4 linked regions of the Homo sapiens genome follow. The protein of the gene in region 3 interacts with the protein of the main gene of each other region in a pairwise test. Each region holds a gene or a part of one and is shown on either strand. Other genes may lie near its edges.

Region 1 (5,282 bases), on a different chromosome or scaffold from region 3:
GCGTCTCTCGACAAGACTTCACCGCCACCAGGGTGTTGTCGGCTCGCAGGCGTCCGCTGAACACTTCGCCAAAGTTCCCCTGAAACGGTCTTGGGCTCCTACCACGGCCTTCCCAGTCCCGCAGTTCTCTTCTCCGCTTCCTACCCATTCTGCTTCCTACCCCTGGGTGAGGGGCCCCCGTGTTCGGACCCCTCACCCAGGCTCTCTGGGAGTTTGACCCTCGCTGGGGAACCTAGAGAGCACATGGGGCAGGCAGGGAAAGTTGCCTCCGATGTGCCACCCTTCCTGAGAGAAGTGACATGGAAATCCAAAAATCACTCTCCCTTGGGTTTGAAAAGCATTCTGATTTTTAGGACAGTGACTTCTTCCCTAAACAGGTATCTTATGGCTTACAGTAACAGGGTGTCTCCCTGCGTGCACACAAGAGCTCGATGGGGGCGGCCTGGGTGGGGGTGATGAGGTCAGGGTGCTGGCAGAGCTGTCTGCTGGGAGTTTTCAGGGTAGGTACTGTCCCGTTTCCTGGAGGATGGTGTGTGGTGGGGGCTGGGCAGGGAGTCGGGGTACAAGTGGGGAATCAGATGGGGCAGGGAGGTCTCTGGGTGGTAGGGCAGGGGGCCCAGGCGCGACTCAGGAGAAGTCGCCAGCGACAAGGAGGCCAGCAGAGGCGCACTCACCCGTCCAATCTGCTCACCCAACACCAGGTCCTCATGGTTCAGCACCCACTTGTCCTGGGGAAGAGAGGAGACAGGGGATCAGAAGTCTGAAGAAAAGGGGTGCTGGGCCCTTAGAAGGGCTGTGTCCTCCATTTTTTGGCGCCTCCATATGTGACCAGGGGTGGGACCACGTGGGGAGCACACTGAGATGACTACGGGGTCCAGGCAGGTGCCCTGACCAGGTAAGCACCAACCTGGTGTGTACAGCCCATGGCATAGGAGTGGCCCTGACATTCCAAACCTAGAGCAAGGCTGGCCCTGAGGGTCACTCACTCTGCATCTTGTATGTAGACGGAGGGCCTGGAAAGCCCTTTCTGCTCAGACGCTGGGTGGGCCTGACCCACACTCCCCAAGCCCTGCCACAGGTGGCATGGGCCAGGCTGGGTGCAGGCTCACCTTGGGCACAGCCCTGTGCAGGACAACACCACTCTTCTTGGTGAGGGGCTGCTGGGTGCTCAGTAGGTGGTCGATGAGCAAAGGAATGCTAGGAAAGCCTTCCCCTTCCAGTCGGTACAGGTTCTGCAGGGCAGGGGACCCGGGGTCAGCAGCCTCCATTCTGAGGGGGCGTGAGCCCTGGGAGGGGGAAAGGGAGAGCAGCAGGGGAGAAAGGGCCTGCCCAGGACCAGGGGCAGAGAGACCTCCAGAAAAGATGCCATCTGATGGCACATGACATCCTGCTGCCCCACCAGGGGAGGACTCACACTTAAGCCTCTATTTTGTTGCAGGGACAGGGTGGTCTCTGTGGCCCCTTCCAGCCAGCCCTGCTAGGGAGGCATCCAAGACCTGGCAGCTACCCCCTACCCTGAAAGGCCATTTCCCTTGGGGAAGGGAAGGGAGGGGAAGAGTGAGGCCTGGAAGGCTCGGGTCCCAGCCCCACTCACATCCAAGGACTGGATGATGAAGTGCCGGGGCAGACCATCCCACAGCACCGACAGCACGTACTCCTGCTTGCCCTGGCTCTCCCGCACCAGGAAGTCCCCAGAGTGCACCAGCAGCTCAGCCACCTCTGCCCTCGGGATGGCCCCGTGGTACCACAGCTGCTCATGCAGGGGCTTCTGCACCTCCGGAATGAGCTGCAGCGGTGGAGGGAGCTGGGCAAGGGAGGATCGAGGAGGAGTCACTTAACCACCTTGTTGAAGAGGCCGTGGGGGCAGCCGGGGGTCTCTCTCTCCCCCCTATATGCCCTCAGCCCTTACAACCATGGAGTGGCATGCAGAGCCATCCACAGGCCCCTGGAGTGGGCACTGGACTGGCCCAGGCTCACGCTGGGCAGAGCTGGGAAGGGAAGCCCAGGCAGGAAGACCCCAAACCAAGCTGGTGCCTCCTCCTCCAGGCCACAGGCCCCCAACCCGCTCCTGAAGCAGGGAGAGCCATGGAATAGTCGAGGTTGCTGGTCCCTTTAGCACACTGGGGCGATGGAAAGGGAGGGGTCACAGGGGCAGGGTCTGGGGACATCTGCAGCCTGGAATCCCAGGGAAGAGAGGAACTTCCCAATACAAGCAGCCTGGGCAGAGCCTCCTCTCTAGGACATCCCAGTGATTAAACTCGAAACACAACAGTAGGGGGGCCCAGGCTGGGCGCCACTCACCGAGAACTTGGGGCGGAAGATTCCTGAGATGTGGCTCTTAAGGATCTCCAGCGTGGGTGTCCTTCCCCCCTCTCGCTCCTGCTCCTGAGGCCAGGGACAGACGTCAGCGGGTGGCCAGGCTTAGGGAGGGGGAGGGCGAAAATGAGGAGCGCAGCCCCAGGTGGGCAGGCCGGTGGCGGGCAGCGGCCGCGGATGGGGCAGCTCACCGAGGACGACGTGGAGTGGCGGTCATCCTGCAGGAGCAGCACAGGCGGGGGCTCGCCGGGGCCCAGGTGCTCCAGCTTGGTCTGCAGCAACTCCTGCTGGGCCTGCAGCTTGGCCTGGCTGCACAGCGCTACCTGCAGCCCCTGCAGTGCTTCTTGCAGCACTTGCCTCTTGCCCAGCAGCTGCACCCTGCAGGCAGGGGCGGGTGGGAGGGTGGATGAGAATAAGGGCTCGGTCTGCGGCGGGTAGCCAGCAGCAGTTAGGGTAGGTAGGAGGGAGGGAGGCCCAGGAGGCTGCTGCAGGCAGGGGCCCACTCACCGCTCCCGGGGGTGGGTGTTCTCCTCTTCATTCCGGAGCTCCTGTTGCAGCTGCGTAACCATCTCCTGCCGCCTGAACACCATCTCGGTGGCCACAGCCAGCTCATCTGTCACTGAGGTCAGCCTGCACCCAAGAGAAGGGCAGCATTAGAACCGAGCCCTCCTGCCCCCTCAACCCAGGTCCAGTGCATCCCTGTAGAGCCAAGCAAGCCCGGCCACCTGGTGACAGCTCTGTGTGGACAGTCTCCACGACCTAGCCCTGCCTACATAAACACTCGTGGTCTGCTGGGAGCCCCGCCGCAGCCCAGGTGCAAAGCCACCACCCACGTGTGCTGCACGCTCTCCACAGTCAGCTCGTTCAGCTGGAGCTCCCCAGGCTCCAGCGGTTCACCCTCCTCAAGCAGTGACTCATCGAACGTGACACAGGGTGGGACGTCAGGTGCGGACCTGTGGGGGACAGCGCCCCGTCAGTGGACAGGCCAGCAGCCCTGGGCCCAGCAGGAGCAAGGACGGGGCTTACCCATACTGTCGCAGGAAGCCTTGGTACTCAGCCTCAGGCTGGATGCGGGCAGCAGCTGCAGCCATCTCCCGGTGAATGGCCACCACCTCATCCTGCACCAGGCTGCTAATCTCCAGGTATTCCTGCAGGATCTCCTTCCTGCCCCCGAGACGGGATCCCCAGTCAGGGGAGCCTCAGGCTGGGCAAGGCTGGGCAGTTCAGGCCTAGGACCCTGGGTTTGGAGTCAGGGCTGGGGTTGACCCCTGCCTCACTTCGAGCTAGCCATGCCACTCTAGGCAAATTATTTAACCTCTCCCTAATCTTCTATTTCCTGATATATATAAGAGGGACACTGGCAGTTGTAATAAGGATCCAGTGGGCCAGGCACAGTGGCTCACGCCTATAATACCAACACTGGGAGGTCGAGGCGGGTGGATTGCCTGAGGTCAGTTCGAGACCAGCCTGGCTAACGTGGTGAAACCCCATCTCTACTGAAAAAGCAAATACAAAAATTAGCCAGGCATGGTGGCACATGCCTGTAGTCCCAGCTACTTGGCTACTCGGGAGGCTGAGGCAAGAGAATCGCTTGAGCCTGGGAGGTGGAGGTTGCAGTGAGCCAAGATCGCGCCACTGCACTCCAGCCTGGCGAAAGAATGAGACTACATCTCTAAATAAATAAATAAATAAATAAATAAATAAATAAATAAATAAATAAATGAACTGCTATCCTTGTCTCCTAAACCTCTTCTTCCCACAGCCTTCCCTACATAAGTTAACAGCCACTCCATCTTCCAGCTGCTCCAGGCCAAATCCCCAGAGTGACCCCTGACTCCTCTATTTCACGCCCCACTTCCAATCCATAGGGAAATCCCACTGGCTTCACCTTCCAGGACCTGACCGCGCCTCACCTCCATTGCTACCTCCCCGTCCTAGTGGCCAAAAGCTTGGATCTGGATTATGGCAAGAGCCTGCTCTCTGGCCTCCCAGCTTCTGTCCTTGCTCCCTGAAGTCTATTTGCAGCACAGCAGCCAGAGTGGCCTTATTAAAACAGAGGTCAGGGCTGGGCATGGTGGCTCATGCCTGTAATCCCGGCACTTTGGGAGGCAGAGGCAGGCAAATCGCTTTGAGCCCAGGAATTAGAGACTAGCCTGGGCAACATGGTGAAACCCCATCTCTACTAAAAATACAAAAATTAGCTGGGTGTGGTGGCGCATGCCCGTAGTTCCAGCTACTCGGGAGGCTGAGGCAGGGGAATCACTTGAACCTGGGAGGCGGAGGTTGCAGTAAGCCGAGATCATGCCACTGCACTCTAGCCTGGGCGGCAGAGCGAGACTCTGACTCAAAAAAAGTTAAAACAAAATGAAACAAAAAAACAGAGGTCAGATCATGCCATTCTTGTTCACCCAGAGCCAAAGTCCTCACCATGGCCCTGCTAGACCCTCTATCACCCAGTAGCCCTTGACGCCTGCCTCCTCCAGCCTCGTGTATGACTCTCCCCCTCCCTCACTCTCAGAGGCACCACTGGTTCCTGGCTATTAGTCCCTGGTACTCTCCTACCTCAAGGCCTGTGTAATTGCTGTCCTCCTTTCTGGAATGGTCTTTCTCCAAATAGCCCCATGATTCACTCCCGTACCCCTCTCAGGGGCCTCTTTGAATGTCACCTCTCAAGAGGCTTTCCCAGATCACTCTATGGACAACTGTCACCTCCTCCCTTGCCTCCGTGCTCCCAGGTCCCGATCCACTTCTCTTGCTTTATTTTTCTCCATGGCTCTTAGTGCTCCTCACATCCTCACTCCACTAACACGAAAGATCCCTGAGGACAGATGTTTTTGTCTACCATCGTTCTCTGGTATAATCCAGAGCCCAGAACAGTGCTCAATGAATGTAATAAAACCCTGGAATAATGAGACCCTGGAATAGTGTAATTCAGAGGTAAGTTGCCTGTTTCCAATCCTTGGCCC
Region 2 (5,439 bases), on a different chromosome or scaffold from region 3:
TTCAATCTTCTTTCTTCTCTACTCAGAAGGTACTAGGATCTGAATGATAAACAATGCTCACATGGAGAGGCATCAGGTAAAACTGCAATTGATTAATATGCCATACATGATGAACCTACTTAGGGTAGAGCTTCTATTGATTTTTAATTCAATAGTAAACAGGTACTGAAAAGGCTGGGAGCAGGTCAGCGGTTCAGACAACGGTCCACTTGCTGACTAGATCACTAACTAAATGTGCTCTATATAAAACACACCAAAGTATCAAATGGAAAACAGTGCTTGCAAATAATTTCATAACCAATACTATGCAGGTGTCTTAACTGAGAAGCAAAGGTGATGTTTGCTTGGATTTTATTTGAAAACCCGATTTGATTCATGATCTACTTCTCCTTAGGTATGGACCCCAGTGTAATGACATAATTGGCTCAGCCTTTAAGATTTAAAGCCTCTGTTCCCAAGCTGCAGTGGCTGGAGCAATAGGAAATGAGAAACAAGGCAATCTCACATTGAAGTGGCTACTTAAGGATCCCTAAGGTGTAGTCATGATTTCCAGCCATGCAGTTGTTTGGAATTAGAAATCCTGATTCCTACTGTAAACTGAACATTGCAAAGCTGGTAGGATTAATTCAATGGAAGAAACTTGGTTTCTTGCTTGGAGGCATGTGGATGAATAAGAACTCTTGTGCATTGCTGGCAGGAATGTGAGTCAGTACAATCACTTTTGGACAGGGACATGGCATCTTCATAGACTTGAAGATATGTAGCAACTCTACTCCTATGTATCTGCCCTAAAGACACTCTTACACATGTTCACAAGAATTCTCACTGCAAAGATGTTGGTAGAAGCAAAATTTTGGAAGATGTCATTTAAGAAATACGTTGTGGTGTAGCAATTAAAACTAAAGCTATCAGGCAAATGATAAAATAGAGCAGGGGTGGCCATACTCATGTCAGAAAAAAATGCTTTACCGCCAGGCACAATGGCTCACACCTGTAATTCCAGCACATTGGGAGGCTGAGGAAGATTGCTTGAGCCCAGGGGTTCAAGACCAGCCTGGGTGACATGGGGGAGACCCTGTCTCTATAAACAAATTTTAAAAGTACTATAAAAAATGTAAAAACTAGCTGGGCATGTTGATTCATGCCTGTGGCTCCAGCTACTCAGGAGGCTGAGGCAGGATTGCCTGAGCCTGGGAAGTCAAGGTTGCAGTGAGCTATGATCATGTCACTGTACTGCAGCCTGGGCCAGAGAGTAAGACCCTGTCTCAAAGGAAAAAAACAGTCAAAAACTGTGACAAGAGACAGAGTAGAGAACCCAGAAATAAATTCTCATCTATATGGTCAAATGATCTTTAACAAAGGTGCCAGCTACTCCTAGGTACTCAAGAGGTTGAGGTGGGAGGATCACTTGAGCCTAGGTTCAAGGTTGCAGTGAGCTGTGATCACACCACTGCACTTCAGCCTGGGTGGCAGAGAAAGAAAGACTTTGCCTCTTGGAGTATTTCATCTTCATTACCCTATAAAGATACTTTGATTGCAAGTGGAGACAAAGTAATTGGCACATAAAATTTTTATTGGAAATTGACTTTACAACTTAGTACTCAGCCTGGGTCACCCTAAAGCAAGCATATTTTATATAAGGGGTTTCAGTTTTACTTTCTTCTTCCTTTGATGACTATGTTTGGACTTTTTAATGCCAACAAGTCAGATCATTGTGTAGATGGCCACTAAACTGCCAAGGTGACAGTTTAACGAATGTGGATTAAGTCCAGGAGCCAAGTTTCCCAGTAAGAAAAATCCTAGGTCTCCTTCAGGGAAGACAGCATTTTAGAGTCAAAGCTAATTATTCTCAAAATCAACATACGTTTGCAAAAAATTGGTTATAATGGAGGATCAGGGACCAATGTCTGCTGCCCGTTGCTTCCTTTACATCCTGTCTGATGCTCTCATGACACTCAAAGCCTCTGCACTTGTCACCCCACCCAGCTCCAACTAAAAGTGTCCCATTTTTTTTTTCCCCACAAATCAATTCTCATGACTGCACTTCAGAGCTTGTCCTCTTAAGGTAATTTGAGTATGTTTAAATTAATAACGTGACAGTATTCAACCAGAAAATAAATAAATGAATATATATACACACACACACACACACACACACACACACGTGTATATATATGGCTTTGTGAATCCAGATGAAGTCAGTTGTTGAGAAGGTAGGTGGGCAGATATTAATAGAATTGGTGTTGTACAAAACAAGGATGAAAGAAAAGTGAGGTGAAGAGGATGGAGTTGTTGAGAAGGTAGGTGGGCAGATATTAATAGAATTGGTGTTGTACAAAACAAGGATGAAAGAAAAGTGAGGTGAAGAGGATGGTTTTGTAGCTGGATAGGTAAAAGGGTAAGTTCTTACGCAAAGATGTATTACAGAGCAAATCTCAAGTTTTCTGACTGCACAGTTCAAAGTTTCAACTACACATTTTACCTAACAGTTTTGAAATATTATAAAGCTTTATTCCATTCTAATATGTGATGGTTTAAGTCAAAAGACTTGAACCTTCTCAGCCTTTCAGACTAGCAATTTATGGCCATAATTCAAAGTGATTCTGGTAGTAATTTTCATTCTAGCAGAAAATTTTCATTAACCCAAGAGTGAAACAGGAGCTGTATTTGCTGGCCATGTTTTATTTGTCCTTTTTCTTCAAACAGGATAACCAAAGATACAGACAGTATTCAATAAAATAAAATAGATGAAACAAATTCTAAGAGACTGCGATGCCACATGCTACGTTTAACCTAATTTTATTCATGCTTGCCTTGGGATGGGGAATAGATCATTCAGTAAAAACATACAGTAAAAACAAAATGTCTTATCATGTACAACTTTCAAACTACAATAATGATGTACCTTAATTACTTCCATGCACACAAGTCTAACATTTGTTTTTTTAAAAAATAAACACAATTAAGACTTCTAGGAGCATTTTATAATAAAGTAATTCCTAATTAATTTTTCTTTGTAGATAGATCAAGCACCTCCAAAATACAAATTCCTATACACAGTGAGCACGTTACTTAAAATGAACACTTAAGTAAATTAAGTACGTGGACAGCCTTAGGATAAGCTGACATTATAGATGCAGCTAGGTAGGCAACAAACCATAGTGCCAAATGGAAAAAGTAAAGTATATTTGCAAATAAATTTTAAAAACTAAGTTAATTTTTTATAATTAAATACAGAAAATATACTGATTTGCTAAAATAAATAAGATGTGATGTATTAACACTTCACTATAAAGAATGCATACCAGAACATTTATAAACAGTGAGTGAGTTTTATTAAGAATAGTTTACTACAATAAACGCTGGCTAAATAGAAGTGCATTTTGTGAAGCACTATGGGTGGTATATGTTTTGCCACATACTCTTGTTACCTTGAGGTAGATAACACATGTGTACCAAATTCGGCATTCATTTTCAGTTGCTGCTGGTATCATGTGTTTTAAGAAATGTGTACAGTATGAAAAACTTGAAAATATTCATGAATGAAAAATGTCTTAGGAAAAAAATAGCTATTTTCATGCAATTATGTACAGTCTCACTGTGTAAATTTCAAGGCAAGGTTTGTTTCCTGTAAAACAGATCAATGTTCTATGAGAGAATGTTCTTGTCTTAGTGCATTTCTTTTCTCCTCCTGCGTTGCATTATTTTGCTCTAGTCTTTATTTTTGTGTGCAAATGACATGCCAGTTAAAATGAAAACTATCTCACATGTAGAAAAAGAAAGTCTGGATTTTAAAAAACAAGAACTCATAAAATCCTTACTAAATGACACCATCTGATTCAAGTAAAAAATGACTTAAACACTAGTAATAAAAAAAGACAAAACACATTTCATGAAGAATACAAAGATAAATGTCTGCTGAGTGTTTTAGTTCAGATGTTTCAGAATGCTGCTGTATGTTTGATGAGGAATTTGAGGGGAAGATTTCATAGCAGAAGGTGTTAATGTGGCCTGTATTGACTTAAGTGGTGACCCAACTGGACTGTGAAACTGTGGGATGCCTATGGACTCGAGCTGCTTGTTAAAGAGGAACTCCCCACTGTTGTTCAGAAATCCTTCCTCATGTCCTCTCTCCCCAAGCTTCCCATCCTCTACTGGCTCAGTTTCTAGCATTTCAGTATCTTCTTTCCTGCTAAAGAACTTGTCCAAGTAACTAGTGTAAGTGTTTTCCTTCTCAACTTGTTCATCCTTCCTTACCTCACAAAACTGATTTATGAAAAAACAGTCCTCCCCACCACTCACAAACTGGCTGTCCCAAGAAGACTGGTACAAGGCTTCTAATTGAGCCAGATTTGCCATTCCTTTTTCCTGTTTTTCTTGGCTTACTGACTTTGATATCAAACTTTTCAATTCTAGTTGGGACACTGAGCTATTCAAGTCATTTAATTTATCAACAACATCAGTAGGCTCATGCTGGGAACTAAGCTGAATAGTTCCTGCAATAAAGGAATCAAAATCAAATCCCTGATTCTTTTCCCTTTCTTTTCCAGCCAGTTGCTGTGATGCTTCCTCTAGCGCTATCTGGGCTTTAACCAATCCATTCCTTTCACATTTTGATTTGCCTTTCTTATCAGATTTTTCTTTGCTTTGTTCTTTCCAATTGGAAAGATCTATAATAAGCTTGGGTTCATAGTAATGGTTAACTTCACTCTCTCTCCAAACTAAGTTATCTAAATATGATGATGACCTCGTTTTGTAGTTACAAGTATGGCTACACTCCAGATCACAATATTTGTTTTCATGATGATCTGAGTATTGCCAACAAGGCTCAGTAGAGTAATTGGTATCAAAAGCAGGATCCTCCAGATACTTTTCCCGATCTCCATCCAAATATTTTCGGGGATCAACTTGTACTTCTTCTTCATCAGTGACATCGGACAGAGCTCTTGGATCAAGCTGAACTTCATCAATATCAAAGTTGTTATGTACAGGCCAATCATGCTCTGAAAACTGACAATCATGATACCTGAAAAAAATCAATACACTAGCGTTATTCTACGTATATGATTTCATTTTCAAATTCACCGAGTACCTTCTATGTGACAGCACTGTGCTAGGTCTATGAGGGGATAATTATAGGAGAGTAAATATGCCTGCCTTGCCCTACCAGAACTTAGTCTTGATAGGAAAGCTCTGTTAATATATTTGGTAATTGCCAATGCAGTATGTAACTTCATTTCCAATTTGTTTTTTGTCCACCAGTTCCATGCAAACAAAAGACTTCATAGCCACAAAATGCAGATCTCAAATCTCAATCAGGTACCTTACAAATGTTTACTCTACAGTAAGGGCAACTAGAAGAGGAGGAGGTTTGCTAAATGTTTACTCTACAGTAAGGGCAACTAGAAGAGGAGGAGGTTTGCTGGAAAACTCATCACC
Region 3 (5,737 bases):
ACACCTACAGATCCACAGACACACAAACGTGCCACTGTGAACCAGGGCAGCACGAATCACTGCACAGCACACTTAGGAACACAGAACTGCAAAGCCACCCATGACACAAGTATCCTTGTACACCCATGGCCATCCCATCAGGGTCACTTGCTCCGAGGAAAAGAACTCAGAGAGGTAGAAACAGAAGCAACATACCCTCATCGAGCCAGGAGGCCGGGGCCATAAGTCACCGTTGGATGACCTGCGCTGGGGTGGGATAAGTCAGCAGGAGCTGCAGCTGGCTGGAGAGACGTTACAGCAAGACAGAAAGCCCTAGAGACAATGAGCCTGTGTCCGGCAAGCCTGGTGCAGCCTAAGATCCTCAGGGCCTGGCCTGTGGGCTCTGGCCCAAGGGGATGCAGCGGGCCCTCTCCCCTTCAGCCATCTTTGGGTGACCCTCAGCCGCCACCTGGCTGGCTCCTCAGCCCTAGTCTCCCCCTAGAAGCCCACTGCCTGAGGCTGGCAGGGATGTCCTTCTCAAGGCCACCCTTCCTGGTCCCTCCCCTCAGGACCCCATGTCTTAATCAAGAACCCCAAGTCCCAGCCCACCCACCACTGAGCCGCTGCTAGTCCCTGGCCAGTCATTGCAGCGCTTTGAGCTCAGGTTCTTGAAGGCGCAGGTGAACGGAAATACCTGCTCCCTGAGTTTGGGAGGAGCACCACAGGGCGGCAAGCCTGAGCCGGATGCATCGGGCAGTATCTGTACAAGCCTCTCTGCCAGCGTCCCCGCTGCCACTCACTCCTCCTAAGCCATCACTCCTTCCAGCCAGTTGGGAATCTCAGAGGCCCCCAGCGCCACACAGGAGCCTCCACGCTCCACCATGCAGGAGGAAGAGGGTTTGCCACGGCTCTGGTTGTGGCACTGTCTGCAGAGCCCTCCACTTACCAGGGTGGTTCTGCATGCCCCTCCCAGAGGTCCCAGCCCAAACCAGGTGGGCATCCCCTCCCCCACCTGGAGGCCTCCATCCCCACACCCAGCATCAGGCACCCTGAAGCCTCCCACAACTCCCCTGTCCCACCCCCCATGACCCACCCTGCTCCTCTCCAACTTCCCGGATCCCACTCAGCACAAGGCCACCCCCACTGTGACCACTCTCCCAGCCCTGACCCTTCCCCTCTTCCTACTCCACCATCTTCAGACCTCAGTCTCCCAAACACCCCAGTCCTCAATCTGGGGAGGGAACAGAGGAGGGGAGCCAAGGGAAAGGGCGGGCCACTGTCCAACCCAAAGAACAGGCCATAGTGGAAAAAGCCGCTGAGAGGCCCCAGACAGGGACTGAGATTGGGTTTGCTTCTGGTTAGCCACATGATCCCAGGCAAACCACTTTCCTTCTCTGGGCCTCAGTTTCCCCACCTGAAAATGGAAATAACGCTTGCTCGTGGTACAGAATTGTTATATCAAGTGGGGCGGGGGCGGTGGGGGGTGGGGATGGCGGGACGCAAACAGTGTGAGAGGACTCTGAGAGACATTCCCAAGGTGCAAGACAAATTCGATTTAGGTCGTTGCTGTTGCCATCACCCGCTCCCCACTCAGGGTTATAAGAACTGTACCTCAGGGTATGAACAGCCAGCCTGGTTTCATGGCTTCAGTTTGCTCCCCTCGACATTCCCAGGAGACCTGATCTGCATGCAAGCAGGTCACTTGCCTTATCCACTATGCCTGCCCACCTCCCAGAGGTCCCCAATTCAACCCCAGCCATGATCCTGAGGTACCTCCTTCCAAGACTTCCTTCACCGGCCAGAGGTAAACACGCTTGCTGGAACTGTCCCACCCACACCTCCCCTGCGCCACACCCCTGGCCCCCTCCTCCTCACCCACCTCCCTTCAGAGGCGAGAGCTGCACTTACATTCCTCGGCCCCAATTCTAATATTCAGGAACCTGTCAGGGCCTGCATCTGAGCTGAAGGCCGAGGATAAACCCAGCTGCTAACAATCTCTGAAGAGGTGTCACATTTTAATTAATAAACACGTTTGCATCCCTTGCTGCATTCAAAGGACCTTGGGAAAGCAAAGTGAGATGGAGCAGGGACCCCTTCAGGCACCTGCTGTGCCCTCCAATCATGAAAATAAAGGAAAATCTTGAGTTCTTTCCAGGGAAATTCCAGGCACCTAGCTGGTCCTGAGAAGTAAATGTGCAACCTGATAAGAAGGTAATCGTAGCTAAAATAATAGCAAGGAAGTCAGACCACACGAAACGTGTGGTTGCCTAAAGAAACTAAAGGTAACATCTTAGCATATGTCCTTGAGTTGTTTTTCAGAAACCCAGACCCCCACCAAATGGACTTGCTGGCACGCACACCTCGGATAAGAGGGAACTGAGAACTCAACTCTGCTCATCTTTCCCCATTGCACCCCGACACGCCCCATCCTCTCGTGGCTCTTGAACTCACCGTGTCCTCGCACCCTGTGACCAACCTTGGAAGGCCCTTGCTCAGTTCTCCCCTTCCCAGCCCAGATTAGGGATCGCTTTGACCAGGAAGCCTTTTTGGACACACCAGGCACAGCCAGGAATCCCTTCTCTGTTTAACCTGTGCACCTAGGACCATCTACATGGAATCATCATTGTCATCAATTTGTTAGTCTGCACAAGACTACATGCATCTTAACACAGGGTCCTTCTCTCTCCCCTGCACCCAGTACAGGCTCCACACACAGTAATCCATTAATAAAAACTGTCATAAGGGAACACTTAAATAAAAGAAATTTCAGTACAAAACAGATTTGAAGCACGGAAGCATGAACCTTCAAGCTGAAAGGAGACAACTGCCATCTAATCTCTTCATTTTACAGATGAACATGGGAACAGTTAGCTGTGAAGCCTTGGGCTGTCGTCCGCCTCCAACCCCTGGGGCTCTGACCACACCCAGCCCCAGCTCAGATCATCTTGCTCAAAGGGCCGAAGGAGGACCCATCTCCACACCTTCCACATGTAGATATCCTCAACGTTCTTCACAGAGGGGATGCCCGCACCCCGCCCCACCGAGTTCGCGGCTGCTGTGCCCATCTTCCTAGAGAGGAGTTCTCCGCCACACCCGACACCACACACTTCCAACTTCTGCGGTGCTTCCCTCTCACTTATCTCCACCCCCAATCCTTATCCCCGCTCGTTTAATCACACATTTATTGGTCACCTACTATGTGTCTGTCACTCTGCAGCGAGCATTGGGGTTCCTGCCCCCAGAAACTGATCTATCAGGGAGGCGAACAGGGACGGGGAACTCGGAACAACGGGACAGCCCAGGAGAGACCGCCCGCGGGCGACCCCTCTACTCGCCACCGCGTCCTCCCTCCATTCTCACTAGCCTCCCTCCTAACCTCGCTGCCCTGGCCTGGCGCCCTCCCCACCCTCGGCCGCGCCCCTTTCCCCTCGGCTGTGTCGGGGCAGAGGGAACGCTTGAGACCCGGGGCTCGGGGGGCGCGCGGGGCTCGGGGCACCCCAGGCCCCCGCCCCATCCCTCCGCCCCAGCCCGGGCCGGGCGGAGGCAGCACGGGAGGAGCGGGGCCGGGCGCTGGTCCATCCCTCGCACCGCCCCTCCCCGCCCAAAATGCAGAGGGACTCGGAGGGAGGCGACGGGGAAATAAATACCTTTGACTTTGTGGCTAAGGTTAACGGGAACTGCCACCCCGAGGGCGACTTGGGCACCGGGCTCCCGGCCCTGGCCATTCCCGGGGCAGGCGGGGCGGGCACGGGTGCCTGATTGGCTGGCGGGCCTGGCCATCCCCGGGGCCGCCCAGCCACTCCATTGGCTGCGCCGCTCAGATGACCCGCCCGGCCCTATCGGAGCAGCCCGCGGGGCGGCTCCTTTGTTCTCTGGAGCCAATAGCCGAGGGGGGAGGGCTGACCTCGCCCCCGGCGGGCGCGCAAGGCCCGGGCGCCGTGAGCGCGCTAGCCGCCGGCCGCGGGGAGGAGACCTTGGGAGGTCGGGCCCCAGATGGCCGGCGGCGTCCTGGCACCCCTGCCAGGCCTGGACTCCGCGTGCGACCCCGTTGTAACGCCTGAACTCAGCGCACGTTCGCCGAGCGCCACAGCGCGCCGGACGCTGTTTCTCCCTGCTGGGGACCCATCAGGGCCCGGACAGAAACCCCGGCTGAGGCTGTGGCTGCCCTCAAGCCGCGATAGCCCCACCGTGGGGTGTGATAACTTTTAGGGTTCACTACGAGGGACCTTAGAAATCATTATACCCGACCCCTTCGTTTTCTGTTTCAGGGAGGTGGTCTCGCTCAGACCCCAGTGGCGCGATCATGGCTCAGTGCAACCTCGAACCCGTGGCTCAACCGAACCTCCCAACCTGCTAACTTTTTAAATATTTTGTAGAGATGGGGGTCTCGCCATGTTGCCCAGGCTGGTCTCGAACTCTTGAGCTTAAGTGACCCTGCGGCCTCGGCCTCCCAAAGTGCTGGGATTACAAACCCGCGCCCGGCCTAATCCCTTTGTTTTCTAGCTGAGGAACGGCTCTGAGGTTACGTTACTAGGTCGGGTTACTAGGTAGGGTTCCCGTGAGCGGAATCATCTCCGCCCAGTTGCCACCCCGGTCCAGACTGCCAGACCTTCAGGAAGGAGTATCTTCGCAACTCCCCACCCCATTGTAAGGAAATTCCTCACACTTCTCCCTCAAAGGGGGCGCAGCTGGGTCAACTCCCACTGGCAGGATGCTCTCCGGAGCTGCTAGAAGCTGCCTCTGGGGCATGAGGTAGATACAGACAGAAGCTGGGCCTCTGAGACTCTACAAACGGTTGCTGTTGGGCAGGCGGACCTTATTTTCTTCAGTCAACAGCTGATTAAACATTTGCCACAGGCCCGGCTGCGGTTTAGCCTCAGTAGCACAGCAGGAACTGGGGACTGAGATTCGATTTTGTCACTAACTTCATGTGTACTTTTTATAAAAGATACTTTTCTGTTTCTGGACTTTGACTTATTCGTCTATAAAATAGGGTTAATAATTTTCTAGTTGCCTGCATACCTTACTGAGTTTTTACCGTTAATTTGGTTATATTATCTATAGAAGGATTTGTAAAATACAAAATCATACACACCCTATAAAGAGGCCACACATCACTAGCTATCAACACTTTGGAGTCTCATTCTCCTGTTTATTTTTTTAAAGACGGGGTCTTGCTATGTTTCCCAGGTTAAAGTACAGTGGCTATTCACAGGCACAATCATAACGCACTTCAGCCTCAAACTCCTGGCCTCAAGGGATCCTCCCACCTGAACTACACCTGAGACTACTGGCATGCACCACCACACCTAGCTTATTTTCTAGAAGAGTACCTAGAAGAGGTTCTACGAAGGCTTGTGGAATACATTCCTGTTGCTGAGACCAGTATTCTAGTTCCAGATTTGCCACTGGCTACAAGTGTTGAGACAGAGCAGGAACCTCTCTTAGGGGTCTGCCACCAGCCCCCCATTCAATGCACGAAAATAAAGAAACATTTGAGTCCCTTCAAGGGAAATTCCAGGCACCTAGCTAGCCCTGCAACCAGCAATTAGGGAAGTGAATGAATGACCTGCTAAGCAAGAAAGTAGTAATAGTTTAAACAATAGTACCCAAATAAGAGTCACAAAACGTTAGCTTCCTTATAGAAACTGAAGATGACATCTTGACATATGTCCTTGAGTTGTTTTTCAGAAATTAGGACCCCCACCGGTGGGGGTCACTTCCACTCTCTGGGCCTGTTTCCTTCTTACAGAGCAGA
Region 4 (5,282 bases), on a different chromosome or scaffold from region 3:
CTTCCATCCTATTCAAGCGTAATGCAGCTGTCATAGACCCTCTTCAGTTTCACATGGGAGTTGAACGTCCTGGAGTGACAAATGTTGCCAGGAGTGCAATGATGAAGGTATATAGATGTGGTAACTTATATGACATATTTGTAGGTTTTGTGAGTGTTTAAATACCAACTCTAATTAATGTTCTTAAGTCTAGTAATTCAACTAAAGTGCAATTTTAAAAGTGGGATATAGCAATATTTTCCCTAGAGAATTAACGTCAAGTTGAATGAACTTCTTTTTACAATTATAGAGAATTATGTATCTTAAATAATTATTTAGATGAAAATAGAAGTTACCTATAAAGATGAATTTTAGATTATAAATGTATTCTATTCCTGTTTATTAATATTAATAATTTTATTTTACTCTACAATTTTATTGATCCTTTGTGTATTACTGACATTTTCTGAAGTTAAATGATGTTGATTTCTTGACAGGACTCTCCATTCTATCAACACTATGACCTAGATTTGAAGGACAAACCCCTGGGAGAAGGTAGTTTTTCAATTTGTCGAAAGTGTGTGCATAAAAAAAGTAACCAAGCTTTTGCAGTCAAAATAATCAGCAAAAGGTATGACCATTTTTAATATAATATTCTTTCTTAGGTATTCATGAATTCTGTAAATTAAAAGATATTTATTTTAATTGAAACCAGTATTATATTGTAAGACTTTCTTACCCAAAGGTTTAACCACTTGGCTCATCAGTTGGTCCATTATACTTTTAGCTCTAATTGATATTTTCTGATAAAGTAATCCATTTTAGACATAAATCATAGTCTTATTTGCTTTTGAGTTTATCTAGAGAAAACGTCTTTGTGACAGTGACATATTTAATCAGGCTCACATAGTGATTTTGGCAGCCATTGCCATTTCTACTAGTTGTGTATTTGAAATATTTTTCTCTAAAATTATTTAGCAAGCTACTGATAGCTTTGAGAGCCATCTAGTTGTTTTGGTAACTGATGATTATTATTAAGATTGCATATTCTTATTACTCTAAATTGTCAGGAAAGTAGAGCATTCATTTCCTCATATGATTTGTACTTTTCTGACTCAGAAATAATAATTTTCTCCAGAATATTACTTTTTCTAGTGTGTGGTATAATTCATTACTTTCATGGAAACCTCATTACAGTATACTGTAACATGTATATTCTGAATGCACTGTAAATAAGACAAAATTAGTCTTGGGGCAGTACTGATATAAAAACTTTCTTGAAGAGACATGTGGATGCTAAGTGTCTCATCTTGCAGGATGGAAGCCAATACTCAAAAGGAAATAACAGCTCTGAAACTCTGTGAAGGACACCCCAATATTGTGAAGTTGCATGAAGTTTTTCATGATCAGGTATCCTACTTTTTTTTTTTTTTTTTCCCATGTGTACTAATTCACTTACAGGGTTGTACTTTTCACGCGTTTTGTTGGTGCTGCTGGGTCAGAGTCAGGGATATAGAACATCACCCAGCCACCAGAAAGGGCAGTGAAACCACCCTCTCAAACCCCTCCCCAACCACACACTGTTTCCCAACCCCAAATCAGGTTATCCCTTCACCTCTCATGCTTTTCTCACTCAGCAGTTAACCACCTATGACAGGAAGACGGAGGGCCAGGAGCTCAGTGGTGCAGTCACTGGCTACAATGTGCTTGTTGCCAGTGCCGCTTCTACCCACCATCACTTAATCCTGGAGTACCTCTCAGGACTCAGGAATTTTGAGCCTCCAACTTCCCTTTCACTTCTAGAGTAAAACTGAGAGAGCCTGGAGCCTAATTAATGCAAGCTAAAGGACAAATAGGAAGCAGAAAGCAAAGATACTCCTTTTATCTTCTAGCTCCAGGTGGTAAATTCTGCTCAGAACCCTGGCCAGATCATGCTGCCCCCTCTTCTGCTCTCAGTCCTGCTTTGCAGCAGGAACTATGGGAGGATGCCAGTGTGTCCAGTTCGTGTCTGTTCACCTCACACATGACAGAAATTGCTCCATTACACTTCTCTGCCCCTGAGACCAGGTGGGGTGATGCAGTCCTACTTAAGACAACTTGGAGGCACAAGAGCACAAACCAATCCTGAATGTGCTTTGCCCTAATTTTACCAATAAAGAAACTGAGATTTTGAATGTTCATAAAACTTGTCTAAGGTCACATAGCATGTCAATGCGAATCTAATAAGGAGAACCTGTACTCCAGTTCTGGGCTCTCTTTGTTGTGCTGTTGTAATATCTGTGACCTAGGATCGATGGGGCCCAGTTCTCTACCACATTGAAATATCCTCGAGTGCTATTGCCAGGAATGATACATCATGGTGAGACCAGGCAGCAGCAGCAGTAGCACCATAACCATAATAGCTGCTGCCATTTATTATCACATATCTTGTGTGGTCTAGGTTCTGTACCAGGCACTCTGCATGTATTGTCTTATTCAGTCCTTACCATAGGTCCATGAGGTGAGAAAATGGACACTCATAGAAGTTAAGTAACAGGTCTTACAGTTGGTAAGTGTGGTAAGGCTGGGATCTGAATCCACACAGTCCAACTTCAGAGCCCAACAAGCTTTTATTTACTTTAAACTACTGCCTTAGGGAAGGCAGAATCACATCTGGCAGTAAGCATCCCAAAATGGCATCATCCTCTACTCACTCTTTGGTTCTTGTAGTCAGAAAAGAAATGCCACTGAAGCAAGGACTCAGGGGGAACCGCTCTCCCTGATCCTCTACCTCCTCTTGCCTCATCAAGCCACTCGACACAAGAGGAGGTAATGAGTCCCCTGGCCACGAAGGTGCTTAAGAAGAGGCTCACTAGACAGTCTCCTGTTGAAGATGATATAGAGGAAATTCACATCATTCAAGGAATCAACGGGTGATCTTAGATGCTCTCCTCTGGGTTTGCAGCTGTGCCCATAACTACATCCCAGACAAGATACTTGATCTCTGACCTTCAGACTAATGTCAGGTCCCATGAACAACATTTCTAATTTTTTATTTGTGTCACAAATTAAGTAGATGTTTTGCTATTTATATATTCAGGAGTTACTAAAATATAAATTGTCACATGATATAATCCTATACAAACTAGTATAAATACATTATCAATCTAATATGCAGTTGTAATGTATCTTGGGTTTTCTCATAATGGTGGCACAGTTGCCTAGATCATCCCTGTATCCAGTCTTTTCTTCAACTAATGGGTGAAATTGGTTATGGTGGGTCTTCAGCCTTTGTGCAATAGCATAGTTCATTTTGTGTGCCATGATATGCGTTTCACGTACTCCATGAGTTTGCTATTGCTGCTGCAACAAATCACCACAAACTTAAAACAATACAAATTTATTATCCTGCAGTCTGGAGGTCAGAAGTCCAAAATCAGGCCCATTGGCTTAAAGTCAAGCTGTCACCAGAGCTGGTTCCCTCTTGAGCAGAACCAGGTGCACAGCGGGAGGTGAGTGGCAGGTGAGCCAGCATTACTGCCTGAACTCCACCTCTTGGCAGATCAGCGACAGCCTTAGATTCTCACTGGAGTACAAACTCTATTGTGAACTGCGCATGGCGAGGGATCAAAGTTGCAGCACTCCTTATAAGAATCTAATGCCTGTCCCACCCCACTACTGCCTCCCCTCGTCCATGGAAAAATTGCCTTCCGTGAAACCATTTCCTGGTGCCAAAAAAGTTGCGGACCTGGCTCATGCCTGTAATTCCAGCACTTTGGGAAGGTGAGGCAGGTGGATCACTTGAGGTCAGGAGTTTGAGACCAGTCTGGCCAACATGGTGAGACCCTATCTCTACCAAAAAATACAAAAAATTAGTCAGGCGTGGTGTTGTGCGCCTGTAGTCCTAGCTACTCTGGAGGCTGAGGTGGGATAATCCGTTGAACTTGGGAGGCGGAGGTTGCAGTGAGCCAAGACTGCACCACTGCACTCCAGCCTGGGTGATAGAGTGAGACCCTGTCTCAAAAAAATAAGAAAACAAAAAAGAAAAAAAATGTTGAGGATCACTGCTCTGGAGGCTCTAAGGGACAACCCATTTACTTTCCTTTTGTAGCTTCTAGACACCCCCCAACATTTCCTTGGCTGTGAGCCTTCCATGCATCACTCTAAGATCTTGCCTCCAGGGTCTCATCTCATACTGCTAACTCTGATGAATAATTCAGGATAATCTCACATCTCAAGCTCCTTAATTTACTAATCACATCTCAAAAGGCCCTTTTGCCATCCTTCTAAGGTAACAACCACAGGTTCTGGGCATTAGGACATGAACAACTTTGGAGGGCCATCATTCAAGCTCTACCACGCATACATTTTCTCATTGCTATCTGCATTTTATTGATAAGGATCCTAGAATTAATAAGATAAAGTAGCATCCCAAGATCATGAATAAATAACAGAACTGACCTTCAAATCCAGGTTGAACTCTAAATCTGTTCGTACACCACTGCAAGTATTGCCTTACATCTTTTTTAAAGCTCACCAGCCTACAGTTGTAGCAGACCTGCAAGCTCAACTTTATCTGATGTAGAAACTCAAGTTAGCTTGATGTCTAGTAGGCTGGGAGCAATTTTCTTGTTAGAAGGGTTGTTCACTCTGCAATTTGTCTAATGCTTTCAGGATAATGTACTTATAATTGTCTTTTTTATGAAGCAGTTTATTCTGAGTTTTGCTAATACAGAAAGAAACATTTTGTTTGTGAAGTGATGTTGGCCTTATAATGCATAGCACCTGAATTCAGTATATTGCCATGATATCTTTTTCTAAACCATTTGTGTTCATTTGAGAGCTGATTAAGTCCTTTGCTTTTTTTCTTTTTTGAGACAGGGTCTCTGTCACCCAGGCTGGAGTGCAGTGGCACAGTGACGGCTCCCTGCAGCCTTGACCTCCCGAGCTCAAGTGATTCTCCCACCTCAGCCTCCTGAGTAGCTGGGACTGTAGGCGTGCGCCACCATGTCTGGCTAATTTTTGTTATTATTTTTTGTAGAGATGAGGTCTCACTATGTTGCCTAGGCTGGTCTTGAGCTTCTGGGCTCAAGCAGTCCTCTCACCCTGGCCTCTAAATGTGCTGGGATCTATAGCCCTTTGCTTTTTGATAATTCCTGTATTATTTTTTGGAAATTATCCATTCTGACAGAAAAGAGCCTGGGTGGAGAAGAAGAGAAAGGATGGTAAACATATAACTTACAAAGTAACTATTAAGATAATATTGTTGGGATTAAAGCAAAAACCCATAGTGAGTTATGGGTATTTGTAATGAATATTAACAG

The links.
Region 1: the proteins of ZNF775 (region 3) and FES interact in a two-hybrid assay, tested with the Homo sapiens proteins (one large-scale study listed by BioGRID and IntAct).
Region 2: the proteins of ZNF775 (region 3) and MAPK6 interact in a two-hybrid assay, tested with the Homo sapiens proteins (one large-scale study listed by BioGRID and IntAct).
Region 4: the proteins of ZNF775 (region 3) and RPS6KA5 interact in a two-hybrid assay, tested with the Homo sapiens proteins (one large-scale study listed by BioGRID and IntAct).

What each region holds. Positions count from the first base shown.
Region 1 is NC_000015.10:90,887,504-90,892,785, reverse strand, and holds part of FES (tyrosine-protein kinase Fes/Fps), read right to left. Parts: intron 3,481-5,282; coding exon 3,343-3,480; intron 3,270-3,342; coding exon 3,150-3,269; intron 2,947-3,149; coding exon 2,824-2,946; intron 2,695-2,823; coding exon 2,508-2,694; intron 2,421-2,507; coding exon of another isoform or gene 2,386-2,420; coding exon 2,302-2,385; intron 1,805-2,301; coding exon 1,595-1,804; intron 1,233-1,594; coding exon 1,110-1,232; intron 729-1,109; coding exon 675-728; intron 80-674; coding exon 1-79. UniProt on the Homo sapiens protein: Tyrosine-protein kinase that acts downstream of cell surface receptors and plays a role in the regulation of the actin cytoskeleton, microtubule assembly, cell attachment and cell spreading.
Region 2 is NC_000015.10:52,063,489-52,068,927, reverse strand, and holds the end of MAPK6 (mitogen-activated protein kinase 6), read right to left. Parts: intron 5,027-5,439; coding exon 3,928-5,026; 3' UTR 1,553-3,927; downstream 1-1,552. UniProt on the Homo sapiens protein: Atypical MAPK protein. Phosphorylates microtubule-associated protein 2 (MAP2) and MAPKAPK5.
Region 3 is NC_000007.14:150,377,282-150,383,018, reverse strand, and holds the start of ZNF775 (zinc finger protein 775), read right to left. Parts: upstream 3,690-5,737; 5' UTR 3,627-3,689; exon of another isoform or gene 196-3,626; intron 1-195. UniProt on the Homo sapiens protein: May be involved in transcriptional regulation.
Region 4 is NC_000014.9:90,895,436-90,900,717, reverse strand, and holds part of RPS6KA5 (ribosomal protein S6 kinase alpha-5), read left to right. Parts: coding exon 1-107; intron 108-476; coding exon 477-610; intron 611-1,295; coding exon 1,296-1,389; intron 1,390-5,282. UniProt on the Homo sapiens protein: Serine/threonine-protein kinase that is required for the mitogen or stress-induced phosphorylation of the transcription factors CREB1 and ATF1 and for the regulation of the transcription factors RELA, STAT3 and ETV1/ER81, and that contributes to gene activation by histone phosphorylation and functions in the regulation of inflammatory genes.